2 linked regions of the Homo sapiens genome follow. The protein of the gene in region 1 interacts with the protein of each later gene in a pairwise test. Each region holds a gene or a part of one and is shown on either strand. Other genes may lie near its edges. The genes, in order: AQP11 and STAT5A.

Evidence for each region.
Region 2: the proteins of AQP11 (region 1) and STAT5A interact in a two-hybrid assay, tested with the Homo sapiens proteins (one large-scale study listed by BioGRID and IntAct).

The regions. Positions count from the first base shown.
Region 1 is NC_000011.10:77,596,226-77,600,043, forward strand, and holds part of AQP11 (aquaporin-11), read left to right. Parts: intron 1-3,818. UniProt on the Homo sapiens protein: Channel protein that facilitates the transport of water, glycerol and hydrogen peroxide across membrane of cell or organelles guaranteeing intracellular homeostasis in several organes like liver, kidney and brain.
Region 2 is NC_000017.11:42,294,681-42,298,498, forward strand, and holds part of STAT5A (signal transducer and activator of transcription 5A), read left to right. Parts: intron 1-938; coding exon 939-1,113; intron 1,114-3,818. UniProt on the Homo sapiens protein: Carries out a dual function: signal transduction and activation of transcription. Mediates cellular responses to the cytokine KITLG/SCF and other growth factors. Mediates cellular responses to ERBB4.

The sequences.
Region 1 (3,818 bases):
TCTACTATTCTTTAACCAATTCAACGCCAACATGGTAAAGCCCCATCTCTCCTAAAAATACAAAAATGAGCCTGGCATGGTGGCGGGCGCCTGTAATCCCAGCTGCTTGGGAGGCTGAGGCAGTAGAATTGCTTGAACCTGGGAGGCGGAGGTTGCAGCGAGCTGATATCACACCAGTGCACTCCAGCCTGGGCAACAGAGCGAGACTATGTCTCAATTAAAAAAAAAAAATATATATATATATGTAAATATATATGTGTAAATATATGTGTAAATATATATGTGTAAATATATATGTAAATATATATGTAAATATATATATATATATATATATATATGTATGTAATGGTTAAGGCCAGGTATGGTGGCTCATGTCTGTAATCCCAGGACCGGGACGTCAAGACAGGAGGACTGCATGAGGCCAGCAGTTTGAGACCAGTCTGGGCAACATAGCAAGACCCTGTCTCTACAAAAAAATTTTAAAATTAGCCAGGTATGGTGGTGCACGCCTGTAGTCTTAGCTACTTAAGAGGCTGAGACAGTAAGACTGCTTGAGCCCTGAAGTTTGAGGCTGTATTGAGCCATGATTTCATCACTGCATTCCAGCCTGGGTGAAAGAGTGAGATCTTGTTTCAATTTAAAAAAAAAAAGACTGTGCCCTTAGGCTGAATACTTATTTTGGGCCTCACTTTCCTCATCTCTAAAATGAAGAAATTTCATAAGACTAGTATGAGGAATAATAATTCAAGTTTGTAGCATAGTACCTGCCATACACGAAGTACTTGGGAAATAATTATTATTTATTATTATTATTTCCCTCTATATTTCTAACAGGCTTCCAGTATAATTTGATCATTTTTGCATATAATTTGATCAGTTTTATTGCTCACAACTCCTTTTGGGATAAATTCAGGAAAATGTAAGTTGTAACTTTTATAACGAAATTTGTCCATTGAAAATAAGTAAAGATTTTGGTACAAATCCCTAGGTGTTCCCCACAACATCTGAGAACAGTCTAATGTCATTCTTCCAGGTTTGTAAGAATAACCACTAATTTGAAAACAGGCCAGGCGCAGTGGCTCATGTCTGTAATCCCAGCACTTTGGGAGGCCAAGGTGGGCGGATCGCTTGAGGCCAGGAGTTCGAGACCAGCCTGGCCAAAATGGCGAAACCCAGTCTCTACTTAAAATACAAAAATTAGCTGGGCATGGTGGCTCGCGCCTGTAGTCTCAGCTACTCAGGAAGCTGAGGCATGAGAATCGCTTGAACCCAGGAGGTGGAGGTTGCAGTGAGCTGAGATTGCACCACTGCACTCCAGCCTGGATGACAGAGTGAGAATCTCTCAAGAAAAGAAAACAGCTAGCTAGCTAGCTTAGTTAGTAACATTAGCATATCAGCAGAATACAAACCAGAAATGAAAAGTGGAGTTTGGAGATGCAAACTTTGAAATTATTTGCCCAGTAATGTCCGGGAGTAGAGATTGAATTTGGGGAAAACAAGCAGGCTTGTCATTAGAGAGGTATTTTCTTTTTTTCTTTTTTCTTTTGAGATGGCGTCTCGCTCTGTCACCCAGGCTGGAGTGCAGTGGCGCGATCTCGGCTCACTGCAACCTCCGACCCCCAGGTTCAAGCGATTCTCCTGCCTCAGCCTCCCGAGTAGCTGGGATCATAGGCGCGCTGTAATTTTTGTACTTTTAGTAGAGATGGGGTTTCACCATCTTGGCCAGGCTGGTCTTGAACTCCTGACCTTGTGATCCACCCACCTTGGCCTCCCAAAGTGCTGGGATTACAGGCGTGAGCCACCACGTCTGGCCTAGAGAGGTATTTTCAACTCCTGACAATGATATTTTATCAGAGCTCATCAGGGTATGATAACACTCCTTTTGCTTTGCTTACGTGCTCATTAAAATGGGTTCTCTGGAGAGGGAAGACAAATATTCCAGTTACTAGAAAGCTAGCTTCCACTCTAAATGAATAAATAGACCTTCCAGCTTCTACATGGGTGTTATGTGATATTTAACTAGTATTCTTCTGTCACAGAGAATTTTATTCCCTTTAGGAATATTGAGAAACTTTAGTGCCTAAAATTGCCAGATTTGAGACTTAGCCTCTGGCTGTGGTAATTTCACCAAATCCATGCTGTCCTCTGACTCTTGGCAGTGGACTAGCTGGATCTCCCGGTTATACCTCTTCTTCAACATGCATGATTGTCATCTCCCCTTCAAATGTCAATAAATAGTAACTTGTTTTTTGAAGCCATCTTTTGATAGTTCCATGCCTGATGATTCTTTAAAAAATAATTCATTTTTAATTACACAATACGTGATATGTTCTCTATGTAAAAAATTCAAAGACTAAAGTGCCTTTTGACTGCCATCCTCCATGCCTCCATGCCTGTTTCCTTTCCTTCCCTGTCTACTCTTCCTTCCACGGTAATCCTTGTCTCTGATGTTTGTGTTACAACCTTCCAAACTGGTTGTTTTTGTTGTTGTTTTTTGGGTTTTTCTTGAGATGGAGTCTTGCTCTGTCGCCCAGGCTGGAGCACAGTGGTGCAATCTTGGCTCACTGCACCCTCTGTCTCGCAGGTTCAAATGATTATCCTGCCTCAGCCTCCTGAGTAGCTGGGATTAAAGGTGTCTGCCACCACACCTGGCTAATTATTTTTTTTTTGTTTGAGATGGAGTTTCACTCTTGTTGCCCAGACTGGAGTGCAATGGCACGATCTAGGCTCACTGCAACCTCTGCCTCCCAGGTTCAAGCGATTCTCCTGCCTCAGCCTCCCGAGTAGCTGGGATTACAGGCATGCAGCACCACGCCTGGTTAATTTTGTATTTTTAGTAGAGACAGGGTTTCTCCATGTTGGTCAGGCTGGTCTTGAACTCCCAGCCTCAGGTGATGTGCCCGCCTCAGCCTCCCAAAGTGCTGGGATTACAGGCGTGAGCCACCATGCCTGGCCACACCTGGCTAATTTTTTTTTTCTTTTTGCCCCCGGAGTAGCTGGGATTATAGGCACCTGCCACCACAGCCGGCTAATTTTTCTTTATTAATTATTTTTTTAATTATACTTTAAGATCTAGGGTACATGTGCACAACGTGCAGGTTTGTTACATAGGTATACATGTGCCATGTTGGTTTGCTGCACCCATTAACTCATGATTTACATTAGGTATTTCTCCTAATACTATCCCTCCCCCAGCCCCCCACCCCATGACAGGCCCCACACCTGGCTACTTTTTGTATTTTTAGTAGGGGTTTCACCATGTTGCCCAGGCTGGTCTTGAACTGCTGACCTCAAATGATCCACCAGCCTCGGCCTCCCAAAGTGCTGGGATTATAGGCGTGAGGCACCATGCCCAGCCCCAAACTGTGTTTTTATTTTTATTTTTTTGAGACAGGGCTTCACTCTGTCACCCAGGCTGGAGCGCAGTGGTGCAATCAAAACCTCCGCCTCCCCGGCTCACAAGATCCTCCCACCTCAGCCTCCCGAGTAGCTGGGACCACAAGTACATGCCACCATACCCAGGCAATTTTTGTATTTTTTGTAGAGATGGGGGTTTTGCTATGTTGCCCAGGCTAGTCTTGAACTCCTGGACTCAACCAATCCGCCCATCTCAGCCTCCCAAAGTGCTGGGATTACAGGAATGAGCCATCAAACCCAGGCCCAAACTCTTTTCATGTGCATTTACTATACATATAGATAAAACCCTACAGGAATGATATATTATTACTGTTATTTACTTATTTATTTATTTTGAGACTGAGACTTGCTCTGTTGCCCAGGCTGGAGTACAGTGGCGTGATCTTGGCTCACTGCAACCT
Region 2 (3,818 bases), on another chromosome or scaffold:
CAGGGCAGGAACATGCCTGTGTGTTCAAGGAACAGAAACAGAAAGCACACATTCCCAGCGAGCTGGGGTTGGAGGTAGGCAGGGCTATGGCCAGCAGACACCATGGGAAGGGGTTTGGATTTTATTCTGAGAACAGTTCATTGGAAAGCCTCTGAGGACTTGTTCCTCTTCATCCATGTGCTCCCTCCCTTTGTGACCTGGTTTCTACCCCTCTCTCTCTATTTTTTTTTTTTTTGAAACGGAGTCTCGCTGTGTTGCCAAGGCTAGAGTGCAGTGGCGCAATCTCGGCTCACTGCAACATCCCCCTCCTGGGTTCAAGCGATTCTCCTGAATGTGCTGAAGGAATGGCTGGATCCAAGGGGAGCTTGTTGATGCCTCCCCTCTAACTTCATTTCGGGGTCTCCAGGATGCCTGTGAGAGTTTCGGCCTCTTCCCTCTTCCTTCAGTCACAAGGGGGTCTTAAGTGAGATGGTGTGTGTTCACACAGCCCTGTTCCTCCCTATGTCCCTAGGATCTACTGCAGTCCATGGTATTGAGTCAGCAAATAAATGTAGAGCGAGGGGTCATCATCATTAGTGGGAAAACCCAGGTGACACCTGGGACGTGTTGAGTTCTAGTCCCTGGGAGGAAATTAGATGGACCCTGTTTGGAATACTCTAGTGGAGGGCAGCTCTGACATAGATATTTGGACTTTGAAGGTGTTACTATCTGCCGTTATCTGCCAGGTCACCTGTTTCTCCTTTCTCTTTCCCTTTTCTATCCCAATTCTGGCAAATGACTCCTTCTGATGCAAATGATCCTTCCTTCTTGCCCTAGTTTCCCTTCTTACCCTAGTTTGGGGTTTGGGGTTTGGGGTCTGTAGTATTGGTGTTTCCTAATGCCTGTGGTCTTCTCCCATCCTCTCTTCCCCGAGTTATTTCCATTCCATCTGTCTCCAGTGCAGCTCTCCGGCTGGGATCCTGGTTGACGCCATGTCCCAGAAGCACCTTCAGATCAACCAGACATTTGAGGAGCTGCGACTGGTCACGCAGGACACAGAGAATGAGCTGAAGAAACTGCAGCAGACTCAGGAGTACTTCATCATCCAGTACCAGGAGAGCCTGAGGATCCAAGGTGAGGCGCGGTGGAGGCAGTGTGCATCCGGAGGGTGGGAGTGAGGAACATTCTATGGACTCCTAGAGGGTAGAGCTGGGTCAGTGTCCATCTCCTCAGCACTTTGCCCAAAGCCTGGTAGAAGCAATGGCTCCCGGTGATTGAGCCCCTGCCGTGGGTCACACTTGGCACACATTATTTAATTCAACCCTCTCAACAAGCCTATGAAGTGAACAGTTGTGTTATCCCCCCTTTTGCAGATGGTAAAAGTGAGGTTCAAAGAGAACAAGTAACTTGGCCTAGGTTGCCTGTAAATTACAGAACTGGATCTCAACTAGAGATATATCATAAAACTCCTGTACTTTATTAACCAGTATTCTCTCCTTAATGGTATGTATTCTGTAAATATCGACACAAATAGGTAAATATGAACAGTGCTCCCTAACCAGAGGGAGGACTTGGATTGGAAGTCTTCTGGTTGAACCAGGCTGGGAGAGGTGGAACTTCCAAAGTGGGCCTTCTTGAGCCTCACGGATAGGATGTGGGCCTGGGGGAAGGGGTGACAGTAGAAAATTCTCCTGTATCCTAGGTCTGTAGTTCGCCAATGGCTCCCATGATAAAGATGTGGGGAAATTAAAAAATCAAATTAGCTTGAAAGGAACTATCCCCAGGTACAATTTGAGGAGTCATGGGACATGGCCCATCTATTAATATGTCCCATTCCAGACTGACCCCAGAAATGTAACACCTCATCTTAGTGAGAACAAGGGGTGTCAAACTGCTTTTTCCTTTACTCTTTTTAATCTGATTTCTTAAGGTAGACCTTAGGTCATTGATTTTAGACCTTTCTTCTTTTCTTTTCTTTCTTTTTCTTTTCTTTTTTTTGAGACAATCTTGCTCTGTCGCCCAGGCTGGAGCACAGTGGCATGATTTCGGCTCACTGCAGCCTCTGCTTCCCAGCTTCAAGAAATTCTTGTGCCTCAGTCTCCCGCATAGCTGGGACTACAGGTGCAGGCCACCACGCCCAGCTGATTTTTTTAGAATTCTATTGTAGCTATTTAAGCTCTCTTCCTAACCCTGCACTGTCAGTGCTTTGTGTACACTGAGACCAGCACAATGCCTGAATATTGCAGCTATTATGTAAATACTTGCAGGATAATTCTAAATGTTTGTTTGTTTGTTTGTTTATTTATTATTGCCCAGGCTGGAGTGCAGTGGCACGATCTCATCTCACTGCGACCTCTGCCTCTCAGGTTCAAACTATTCTCATGCCTCAGCCTCCTCAGTAGCTGGGACTACAGACATGCACCACCATGCCTGGCTAATTTTTTTTTTTTGTAGTTTTAGTAGATACAGGGTTGTGCCGTGTTGTCCAGGCTGGTTGCAACCTCTAGCCTCGAGTGATCTGCCTGCCTCGGCCTCCCAAAGTGCTAGGATTATAGGCGTGAGCCACGGTGCCCAGCCAATACTGACAGGATAATTCTAAGAGAATTTCCCCTCATCTGAATCTATCCCAGACTGGCCCTAGAAGAAGGGCAGCTCCTTCTGAGAATGGAAACGGAAGATTTTGGGCGGTTATTCCTACCCAAGTCCTTAGACTGTCGACAGTATTTCTGATCCCGTGCCTGGCTTTTCTGTTTCCTGTGCATGGTGGCGGATTAGGTTTGGATTCAGGTTGGGTTTGGATCTATCATGCAGTGTCTTCTCAGTCCCATTTGTCAAGTTCACTCAGCAGAAACACAGACTATTGATCTGCTTTTGCCAGGGAAGGCTCAGCTGCCTCCAGTGGAGTAGGGAAATTGCTTCCCGTCTCCCTGGCCTCCTTCCTAAAAGCTTCTGCAAATTTCCAGGAGAGCCCTAAGTGGGTCCCTTGCATAGGAAGGCTGGGCCCAGGTGTTGGGATCACCACCACCCTCCCTGTGGCTGGGCAGGATACCCGAGGTAGCCGTGCAGACACCTCGGATCTGTCCGTGCCTGGATGATCCTCTTCCTGCTCGATACCTGCAGTGAGATTGGAGCCATATTTCTGAGTTCTAGCTCTGGGCTGTTCCTGGCTACATAGAGTTGCTTTTGTCTGTCCCAGCTTGTGCATCCCATGGGTCAGGGCTGGGGTCAGAGTGACGTGGCCCTCAGGGGCCAGCCAGGAGCTCGACCAAGACATGCTGGTGCGCGCATCTTCTGACTCAGCTCAAGCAAGGACGCTGGGCTGTTGAGAAGGTGATGGGAAGGGATTAATAGTCCCAGTGTGGTGGAGACGGGCTGTCGCTGGGAGGGTGGGGTGGGCCTGCGGTGGTGGTTGTAACTGTGGACATGTTTACTTTCTTAGCCTGGGTTATTGATACACAGGCGCCCTTGTGTTCCACATCCCCTGTGTCTTACGTATTTCATAATGGATACTTTTTTTTTTTTGAGATGGAGTCTTGCTCTGTTGCCTTGGCTGGAGTGCAGTGGTGCTCTCGGCTCACTGCAACCTTTAACCCCGGGTTCAAGCAATTCTCCTGCCTCAGCCTCCTAAGTAGCTGGGATTACAGGCATGCGCCACCATGCCCAGCTAATTTTTGTATTTTTAGTAGAGACAGGGTCTTGCCATGTTGGCCAGGCTGGTCTCGAACTCTTGACCTCAAGTGATCTGCCTGTCTCAGCCTCCCAAAGTGCTGGGATTACAGGCGTAAGCCACCGAGCCTGGCACATGATGGATACTTTTTTTTTTTTTTTTTTAGACAGAG